Regions from separate parts of the Homo sapiens genome. Here region 1 is linked to region 2. Evidence: fine-mapped expression QTL. A gene starts in region 2. The other region holds a variant in brackets. All regions are shown on one strand. Distances are from middle to middle. Region 1 overlaps LOC105371334 (a long non-coding RNA gene). Region 2 holds the start of TAT-AS1 (TAT antisense RNA 1).

Region 1 (5,378 bases), 35 kb after region 2:
ACCCTCCTAGCTTAAATCAGGAAGAATTAGATACCCTGAACAGATCAATAATAATAAGTAAGATTGAAATGGTGATTTTAAAATTACAAACAAAAAAATCCAGGACCAGATGGATTCACAGCAGAATTCTACCAGATATTCAAAGAAGAATTGGTACCAATCCTTTTGACACTATTCCACAAGATAGAGAAGGAAGGAACACTCCCTAATTCATTCTATGACGCCAGCATCACCCTAATACCAAAACCAGGAAAGGAGATAACCAAAAAAGAAAACTGCAGACCAATATCCTTGATGAATATAGATGCTAAAATCCTTAACAAAATACTAGCTAACTGAATCCCAACAACATATCAAAAAGATAATCCACCATGATCAAGTGGGTTTCATACCAGGGAAGCAGGGATGGTTTAATATATGCAAGTCAATAAATGTGATACACCACATAAACAGAATTAAGAAACAAAAATCACATGATTATCTCAATAGATGCAGAAAAAGGATTCTACAAAATCCAGCATATCTTTATGATTAAAACGCTCAGCAAAATCAGCATACAAGGGACATATCTTAATATAATAAAAGCCATCTATGACAAACCCACAACCAACATAATACTGAATGGGGAAAGTTGAAAGCATTCCCTCTGAGAACTGGAACAAGACAAGGATGCCCACTCTCACCACTCCTCTTCAACAAAGTACTGGAAGTCCTAGCCACAGCAATCAGATAAGAGGAAGAAATAAAGGGCATCCAAACTGGTAAAGAGGAAGTCAAACTGTCACTGTTTGCTGATAATATGATTGTTTACCTTGAAAACCCTAAGGACTCCTCCAGAAAGCTCCTAGAACTGATAAAAGAATTCGGCAAAGTTTCAGGATACAAGATTAATGTACACAAATCAGTAACTCTTCTATATATCAACAGCGACCAAACAGAGAATCAAATCAAGAACTCAACCCCTTTTACAATAGCTGCAAAAAAAAAAAAAAAAAAAAAAAAAAAGCTTAGGAATATACTTAACAAAGGAGTCGAAAGGCCTCTACAAGGAAAACTACAAAACACTGCTGAAAGAAATCATAGACAACACAAACAAATGGAAACATCCCATGCTCATGGATGTCTATCAATATTGTGAAAATGACCATACTGCCAAAAGCAATCTACAGATTCAACACAATCCCCATCAGAATACCACCATCATTCTTCACAGAATTAGAAAAAAAAAATTCTGAAATTCATATGGAACCAAAAAAGAGCCCGCATAGCCAAAGCAAGACTCAGCAAAAAGAACAAATCTGGAGGCATCACACTACCCGATTTCAAACTATACTATAAGGCCATAGTCACCAAAACAGCATGCTACTGGTATAAAAACAGGCACATAGACCAATGGAATAGAATAGAGAACCCAGAAATAAACCCAAATACTTATGGCCAAGTGATCTTTGCAAAACAAACAAAAACGTAAAGTGAGGAAAGGGCACCCTTTTCAACAAATGGTGCTGGGATAATTGGCTAGCCACATGTAGGAGAATAAAACTGGATCCTCATCTCTCACCTTATACAAAAATCAACTCGAGATGGATTAAGGACTTAAACCTAAGACCTGAAACTATAAAAATTCTACAAGGTAACACTGGAAAACTCCTTCTATGCATTGGCTTAGGCAAGGATTTCATGACCAAAAACCCAAAAGCAAATGCAATACAAACAAAGATAATAGCTAGGACCTAACTGAACTAAAGAGCTTGTGCATAGCAAAAGGAACAGTCAGCAAAGTAAACAGACAACCCACAGAGTGAGAGAAAATCTTCACAATCTGTACATCTGACAAAGGACTAATATCCAGAATCTACGACCAACTCAAACAAATCAGTAAGAAAAAAATCAAACAATCCTATCAAAAAGTGGGCTAAGGACAAGAATAGGCAATTCTCAAAAGAAGATATACACATGGCCAACAAACATATGAAAAAATGCTTAACGTCACTAATAATCGGGGAAATGCAAATCAAAACCACAATGCGATACCACCTTATTCCCGCAAGAATGGCCATAATCAAAAAATCATAAAACAGTAGGTGTTGGTGTGGATGTGGTGAACAGGGAACACTTCTACACTGCTGGTGGGAATGTAAACCAATACAGCCACTATGGAAAACAGTGTGGAGACGCCTTAAAAAGCTAAAAGTAGAACTACCATTTGATCCAGCAATCCCACTATCGGGTATCTACCCAGAGGAAAAGAAGTCATTATTCAAAAAAGATACTTGCACACGCATGTTTATAGCAGCACAATTCACAATTGCAAAATCATGGAACCAACCCAAATGCCCGTCAATGAGTGGATAAAGAAACTGTGGTATATATATAGAGATGGAATAGTACATAGCCATAAAAAGGAATTAATTAATAGCATTTGCCTGTGACCTGGATGAGATTGGAGACTATTATTCTAAGTGATGTAACTCAGTAATGGAAAACCAAATATCGTATGTTCTCACTGATATGTGGGAGCCAAGCTATGAGGACACAAAGGCATAAGAATGATACAATGGACTTTGGGGACTCGGGGGGAAGAGTGGAAGGGGGACGAGGAATAAAAAACTTCAAATATGGTACAGTGTGCACATGGGTGATAGGTGCAACGAAATCTCACTAATCACCACTAAAGAACTTACTCATGTAACCAAATACCACCTTAACCCCAATAACTTATGGAAAATTAAAAAATAAACAAAATAAACAAAAAAATTTACTTCCTAAATATCTCCGGAATCCATTTCCTTCTCCTTATTTCATCATCTCCTCCTAGCCCTAGCTACATCACCATCACCTCTTGGCAGAACTATGTGTAATCGCCTCCTTGGTAATCTTCCCTCATCCTAACCTGTT[C/A]TCCGTATTGCAGTCAGAGTAATATCATCCCAAAGTATTTTCTGATCATGTCACATTTCTCTCCTTCATCCTTGCTTAAAACTTTTTACTCCAGGCTGGGTGCAGTAACTCACGCCTGTAATCCCAGCACTTCGGGAGGCCGAGGCGGGTGGATCACGAGGCCACGAGATCGAGACCATCCTGGCTAACACGGTGAAACCCCGTCTCTACTAAAAATACAAAAAAATTAGCCGGGTGTGGTGGCGGGTGCCTGGAGTCCCAGCTACTCGGGAGGCTGAGGCAAGAGGAATGGCGTGAACCTGGGAGGCGGAGCTTGCAGCGAGCCGAGATCGCGCCACTGCACTCCAGCCTGGGCGACAGAGCAAGATTCCATCTCAAAAAAATAAAAAACAAAAAACTTTTTGCTCCAGCCTGGCCAACATGGTGAAACCTCGTCTCTACAAAAAAAATACAAAAATAAGTTGGATATGGTGGCATGTGCCTATAATCCCAGCTACTCCAGAGGCTGAGGCAGGAGAATCACTTGAACCCGGGAGGCAGAGGTTGCAGTGAGCTGAGATCACGCCACTGCACTCCAGCCTGAGTGAGGCTGACTCAAAAAAATAAATAAATAAATAAAAATTTTTAAAAAAACATAAATAAACAAAAAAAATTAAAAATTAGCACCTGCAGATTGTCCTGGCTGCTTGGGAGGCCAAGGTGGGAGGATGGCTTGAGCCCGAGAGTTTGAGGCTGCAGTGAGCTATGATCATACCGCTGCACTCCAGCCTCGGCCACGGAGCAAGACCCTGTCTCTAAATTAAAAAAAAAAATTAAGAAACAGAAAAAAAGAAATAGATCATTTGTTCCTCTGTGTGAAAGTTAACTTGGAGCAAATTCTGGGGGATAGGGGATGTGGAGGTAAAGACTGCAGCCTGCTGGGGGTGACATGCATTCCCAGAGAAGGAAAAGATGCTGAATGGAGAAGTCTCAACGTGGTGAACAGCACTCTTTGTTTGTGTCCAGACTGTACTGGAAACTGGCTCTTAGAGTCAGAGTTCCAGAGTTCCACCCTCCTTGGTCCTAGCCTGCTTCTTGCTTTCATCCACCTTCCTTGGGAGATTGTGAAACCCACGTTGGGAATCACCAACACCAAGGTACGATTGGGAGAGGCGGGGCATGAGAGCAGGATAGGGCACACAGCGAACATCAGTGTGCAGAAGGTCGCCCAGGCCCACAGATGGGCTGATGCAGGTGCCGTTCCTTGGCAAGGACTGTCCATGTGTCATCACTGACCTCTTCAGGTCTAGAGAACTGCAGTTTTCTCCAGCACCTCCTGGACTTCATCCATGGGTGCTATGACAGAAAACAGAACGATGTTCAGAGGGCACTGTGCAGTCCTCAAACCGTGGAGAGGCCCAGAAGAGAGACAAATAACTACACAGGACTCCAATCTGCTATGGCTATGTTTCAGATGTAGGCCACAACAGTTCTCTTTGTTTGGAAAAACAAAGTGGCAAAACACATTGTGACACAAAAAGATCTCAGCCGGGCGCAGTGGCTCATGCCTGTAATCCCAGCACTTTGGGAAGCCGAAGCAGGCAGATCAAGAGATCAGGAGATCAAGACCATCCTGGCTAACACGGTGAAACTCCATCTCTACTAAAAATCCAAAAAATTAGCCGGGCATGGTGGCGGGCGCCTGAAGTCCCAGCTACTCAGGAGGCTGAGGCAGGAGAACGGCGTGAACGCAGGAGGTGGAGCTTGCAGTGAGCCGAGATGGTACCACTGCACTCCAGCCTGGGTGACAGAGCAAGACTCCGTCTCAAAAAAAAAAAAAGATCTCTATTCTTCGGTCCAGGAATTTTACTCTTGAGAATGTATCCTAAAAAATAAATGGCGTGGAAATAAATCTTTGGTCTATAGTGTTTAAAATCCTGGACTTCAGTATTAGAGAAACCCAGATTTTGAATCCAGTATCTACCACTTAAGTCAACTGTGACCTTGGATGAGTTACTTAACTTCCACTTCCTCACCCGCAAAACGAAGATAATAATTTTCCTACTTTGAGCTGGGCATGGTGGCGTGTGCCTGCAATCCTAGCTACTCGGGAAGCTGAGGCAGGAAGACTGCTTGAGCCCAGGAGTTCAAGATAAGCTTTGGCAAAATAGCGAGATCCCTCTTGCTCTCAAAATAATAATAATCATCATCATCATCATCTTCCTATTTCACAGAGTTTTTGAGAAATATGTAAGATAATGCAGTAAAGATCAGTGCATAGAAGGCCAGGCGCGGTGGCTCATGCCTGTAATCCCAGCACTTTGGGAGGCCGAGGCGGGAGGATCACCTGAGGTTGGGAGTTCGAGACCAGCCCCACCAACATGGAGAAACCCCGTCTCTACTGAAAATACAAGAAAGTATCCAGGCGTGGTGGCGGGCACCTGTAGTCCCAGCTACTTGGAGAGGGTGAGGCAGGAGAATGGCATGAACCCGGGAGGCAG
Region 2 (5,378 bases):
GAATGAATTCCTTCCCCAGGGTTACTCCTTGCTGGGAAAAGAATTCAGCAGTATTTCTCCTACTCACACATCCGTCTATAGGCTTTCTGTGAGAAGAAAAATATGGCTGTATTCTGCCTGACCCCGCAGGCAGTGAGACCCTATGGTTATCTTCCCTTGTTCCCTGAAAATCACTGTTATTCTGTTCTTTTTCAGGGTGCACTGATTTCATATTGTTCAAACACACCTGTTTTACAATCAGATTTCATATTGTTCAAACACACATGTTCTACAATCAATTTGTACAATAGTGGTCCTGAGGTGACGTACATTCTCAGCTTACAAAGATAACAGGATTAAGAGATTAAAGTAAAGACAGACATAAGAAATTATAAGAGTATTATTAGGGAAGTGATAAATGTCCATGAAATCTTCACAATTTATGTTCAAAGATTGCAGTAAAGACAGGCGTAAGAAACTTTAAAAGTATTAATTTTGGGAATTGATAAATGTCCATGAAATCCTCATAATTTATGTTCTTCTGCCTCAGCTCCAGCTGGTCCCTCCATTTGGGGTCCCTGACTTCCTGCAACACAATGCCTTTTATTTCTTTTTCTTGTCTTATTGCTCTGGCCACTACTTCCAATACTATGTTGAATCAAAGTGGTGAAAGTGGGCATCCATGCTTTTTTCCTGATCTTAGAAAAAGAGATTTTAGTCTTTCACCATTGAGTATGAAGTTAAATATAAGCTTTTCTTTTCTTTCTTTGTTTCTTTCTTTATTTGGAGATGGAGTCTTGCTCTGTCACCCAGGCTGGAGTGCAGTGGCACGATCTTGGCTCACTACAGCCTCTGCCTCCTGGGTTCAAGCAATTCTCCTGCCTCAGCCTCCTGAGTAGCTGGAACTACAGGCATGTGCCACCACGCCTGGCTAATTTTTGTATTTTTAGTAGAGATGAGGTTTCGCCATGTTGTCCAGGCTGGTCTCAAACTCCTGACCTCAGGTGATCCACCCACCTCGGCCTCCCAAAGTGTTAGGATTACAGGCGTGAGCCACCTTGCCTGGCCGATACAAGCTATTCATAGATGGTCCTTATTATTATCTTGAGGTAGGTTCCTTCTGTTTCTAGTTTGTTGAGTGTTTCTATCGTGAAAAGGTGTCAAATCTTGTCAACTAACTTTTCTACATCAGTTGAGATGATCATGTGGTTTTTGTCCTTCATTCTGTTAATGTGGCATATTATATTGATTGATTTTTATATGTTGCATCTCAGTAATAAATCCCACTTGATCATGGTGTATAATCCTTGTAACATACTGTTGAATTTGGTTTGCTAGTACCATGCTAATCTTCTCTGTATTGTTCCAATTTTAGAATATGCACTGCCAAAGGGAACACTCCCACAGCTTTACTTTTTAAATATGGTATAACGTAAAAATACATTAAATTTAGGCTATCAAATGAGTTAAAGACCAATAATTCTTTTCTACATTTGAAACACACAAAAATTAAGACACACATGTGCTAGTTCTTCTGTTTATTGTTTTCTTTGAGGAATTGGGCATCACCTCCTATACAGCTTCAACCTTAACCTTAGCAAATGACTGACTGCCTCTTTGGAAGGTGCTGTGAAACAATTTGGCCTATAGAGAGCATCTGTATTTGCAGGTTCTATAACATTATATGAAACTTGTTTGTAAATAAACCTAAATTGTTTAAAATAAATAAGGATATAAATAATATGTACTGAGAATTCAGTTCTTTTCCAACATATATGCAATAATTCAAACTTCAGGGTACGTAAAATACAACACCTCACACAGAATAATGTGCAGAATATGCGGAGTAACAAAAATTCTCTCCTTGACCAAACTCTAGCCAGGTTCCTCTGAGCCATTTGTGGACTAGGCCTCAACAGACTTGAACAAAACTCTAACACAGTCTCTAACAGTTCAAGGTAGCATCTCTAGGATGACTCCAGCCCCGCTTTAAAGGGCCTGCCTAAAAAAACTCAGGCTGCCAAAGGAATTTACTGTTCCAGCCAACACCTTAAGATATGGCTCCTATCTCCCAGCATCTGTAGGAGGATAAAAGCCTAACTTCCAGAAACACCCTTTAACAAACCCAGATGGGTTTCACATGGACTAACCCCTACTTCGCACTTTTTGTAATCTTTCACTTCCCTCACTCTTCTGAGCGCCCCCTCATTCCTCTCCCCTTCCCTATTTCCCCATTTTTCCTTTAAAGTCTGAGTAACATTTGTACAAATCAAAGTTGAGTTCAGTTCGTGCTGGACTCCTCCTTATTCCATTAGTATATTACTGGTTAAAACCTGTCTCAACCGCTTTACTGTCCTGCTTTGTCTTTGACAAAGGCACGGGGGTGGATTTATTTTTCTGGCTGAGTAGAGATCCTAATGTCAGGCACTGCGGACGGTGAGGGCCACGATTCTTTGGAGAAAAGTTCCAAGGGGCTATACCATTGGAAACTAACACCAGCTAATAGAATTGTCTGCTCTGCGTCACAACTCATGGAAGTTGCTGCTTCTGATCCAGAGCTGGGAAAGGTTAACAGGTGATTACAAAAGCCTAGGATGTTTTGTCAACTTCCTGGAACAATTCCACCAGTCAGAGCCCAAACCGGGGGCAAAGGAGGAAGAGAAACTCGAAGCAGGGTGTGACCAGGGTAGACAGGCTGAAAAAGGAAACAAAATGTAACATCCTAAGAGAACGCAGAGGCCGAATAAAGGAACTAACCCTCACCTGCAGCTCAGATTCTACGCCGGCGCCCGGAGCTGTGTCCTGTTGCCTAGCGACGGCGCATGCGCACTGACTAGCGCAGCCCCCTAAACATGCATCCGCGCCTGCGCAGCCGCGGGTCGCCCAGGGTTGGGATGTTGGTGTCGGCTGGGGGCTGCTGTGAGGCGCTTGGTAGCACCCAGTCCTGATACTCTCCAGTTACCCGGTAGGCGGGGCTCGGACACAAAGAAAAGGTGAATTCGCAGCTGAGAGCCCTTGTTTCCGGTCCTTTTTTTTTTTTTTTTGAGATGGAGTCTCGCTCTGTCACCCAGGCTGGAGTGCAGTGGCGCCATCTCGGCTCACTGCAAGCTCTGCCTCCGGTGTTCAAGCGATTCTCCTGCCTCAGCCTTCTAAGTAGCTAGGATTACAGGCGCGCGTCACCACGCTTGGCTAATTTTTGTATTTTTAGTAGAGCCGAGGTTTCACCAAGTTGGTCAAGATGGTCTCAAACTTCTGACCTCGTGATCCGCCCGCCTCGGCCTCCCAAAGTGCCGGGATTACAGGCGTGAGCCACCGCGCCCGGCCGTCTCCGATCTTTACACGCATTCTTCGTGTTATCTGAAGACACTCTGACGCCACCACCCAAAGCAACTGGCAGTTGACTCTTGGCAATTTTAAGCTTGTGTGGAAAGCAGCCGCCGCCCGGTAGCTCCTTTTTATCTAGAGACACTCAGGATGTGGGGGACACCCCAGCAATGCCATCCCTCCTTTGACCTCCAGAGCGCGCAGAATTACAAAGTTGAGTAATACTTTATTTGAAAAAATGAAAAGTGCACACACACACACACACACACACACTTACATAGGCACAGTATAATCTGGAAGTATGACCAGCAAATGATAACTGATTCCCTCAGGGGAGAAGAAACTGGGTGGCTGAAGGACAGGAATGAGAAAGAAGGACAGTTGCGTTTGTTTGTATCGTTTGAAATTGTCCAGTGTGTATGTGTTCTTTTCAAATGTTTGAAGAACCATTGGCTCCCTTATCAAAATGTAAATACCAAGGAAAATCAGGAATTTAAGAAGTCTAAGAATTCTGTAATGCTGGGTAGAATTTTCTGTACGTGTAAAACTAAAATGTCTTTTGTAAATCACTGAGTCTTCCTGTTTATTTCTGGTTAGAGATCTTTGGGGGCTTGGATGGAGGAACAGGAAAAGAGGAGCCAGGCTTTTTTGGAAAATTGGCGGCAGCGGTGGCATACGGGAAACTGAAATCTTTATCTAATCTCATCCTTTGTATATTCGTCTTGGATTTGCTGAAGAAAATTAAAAGGTAAATTTTGCTGTGAGCTCACTGAACTCAAATTGAAAGGGAACATATGCTGTTTATTTTTGTGAAGGACATTAATTGGGTGTGACTGGCAGGGTTGAGACCTGAAGTTCCTCTTTTAGATAAGGAAAATTTCCCTTGGTGAGAAATCTCTAGACTAGTTATGATAGATTCCTAACCCCCAACCTTGAAAGGTAACTTAAGGCTCCCTCCTCTAAGGGAAGGGCTGAAGAAAAAATTAAACAGGCAACTGTGCCTATGAAGATTTGCGAAAAAAAAAAAAAAAAAAAAACATCTAGGACACTTCTCATTCACTGGGTCAAGCCAGAGCCATCAACTTTGTGACCTAGTGAGTGGTTAGTGGATATAGGCAAGCGTAGTAACTTGGGACCAGAGGTTAGGGATCCAGAAAGTTGAAAATGTAAAGACAAAGGCCAGAGGTTATAACTTACTGCCTCTTGGTAAGTAGGAAGCCAGAAGTTGAGCTCCCAAATAAAATGTTTTAGGAACTGTGGTTCTTAAGTAACTCCAAAAGTCAGTACATTTACAAAGAAGTAAATGAAACCTCATAGGTAATGAAACAATGAGACTGAGGAGTGCCTGGGATTAGAAATTCCCAAACGGAGAAAAAAACACATCACAGAAGAGCCATACTTGGTGAAATTTATTAAAAAAAAAAAAAGAAAAACAATAATTTATGCCCTTGGCAAAATAAAAGATCTTATCAATATAAATGTTTCTTAGAAAATGTATGAAAAGATAATATATATTAATAAATCAATATTAACATTACAGCAAAAGTAATAATGATTATATAACAATGACAAGTGAAGATATTTCTGGCCCTTACACAGTAGTATTTCTGGAAGGTCTCTGATTCCTGCTTGCTCTAGTACAGGCGTGCTCTCACTTTAAGAAAGCCTGATGCCGCTGGGCGAGGTGGCTCACGCCTGTAATCCCAGTACTTTAGGAGACCCAGGCGGGCAGATTGCCTGAGGTCAGGAGTTTGAGACCAGCCTGGCTAACATGGTGAAACCCTGTCTCTACTAAAAATACAAAAATTAGCCGGGCATGGTGGCTCACGCCTGTAGTCCCAACTGCTTGGGAGGTTGAGGCAAGAGAATCGCTTGAACCCAGGAGGTGGAGGTTGCAGTGAGCCGAGATCGCGCCACTGCACTCCAGCATGGGCGACAGAGCAAGACTCCATCTCAAAATAAAGAAAGAAAGAAACAAAGAAAAGAAAAGCTTATATTGAACTTCTCTAAAAAAAGAAAAAAAAGAAAGCCTGATGCACACAAATCTAAATTTGGCAAGTCGATCAATTAAAGGA

Evidence for each region. PIP is the estimated chance that this variant, and not a neighbour inherited with it, causes the effect.
Region 1: its variant is the best candidate, but not a certain one, in a credible set for the expression of TAT-AS1 in T cells (TOPMed, PIP 0.61).

Annotation. Positions count from the first base shown.
Region 1 is chr16:71,596,852-71,602,229 of GRCh38, forward strand. The region is part of intron 2 of LOC105371334 (a long non-coding RNA gene); the gene reads right to left. Among named protein-coding and RNA genes, the nearest start is that of TAT, 22 kb to the left of the region's middle. The variant C/A (reference allele first, on the strand shown) is at 2,899.
Region 2 is chr16:71,562,151-71,567,528 of GRCh38, forward strand. TAT-AS1 (TAT antisense RNA 1) reads left to right here and starts at 2,866. Exons shown (of 3, transcript NR_103852.1): 1 at 2,866-2,972; 2 at 3,901-4,051. It overlaps TAT (tyrosine aminotransferase), which reads right to left. Exons shown (of 12, transcript NM_000353.3): 12 at 3,510-5,378. LOC124903710 (a long non-coding RNA gene) reads right to left here and starts at 2,790. Exons shown (of 2, transcript XR_007065106.1): 1 at 2,743-2,790; 2 at 1,503-2,674. It also overlaps the pseudogene RNU6-1061P. RefSeq lists enhancers at 1-91, 3,286-3,817.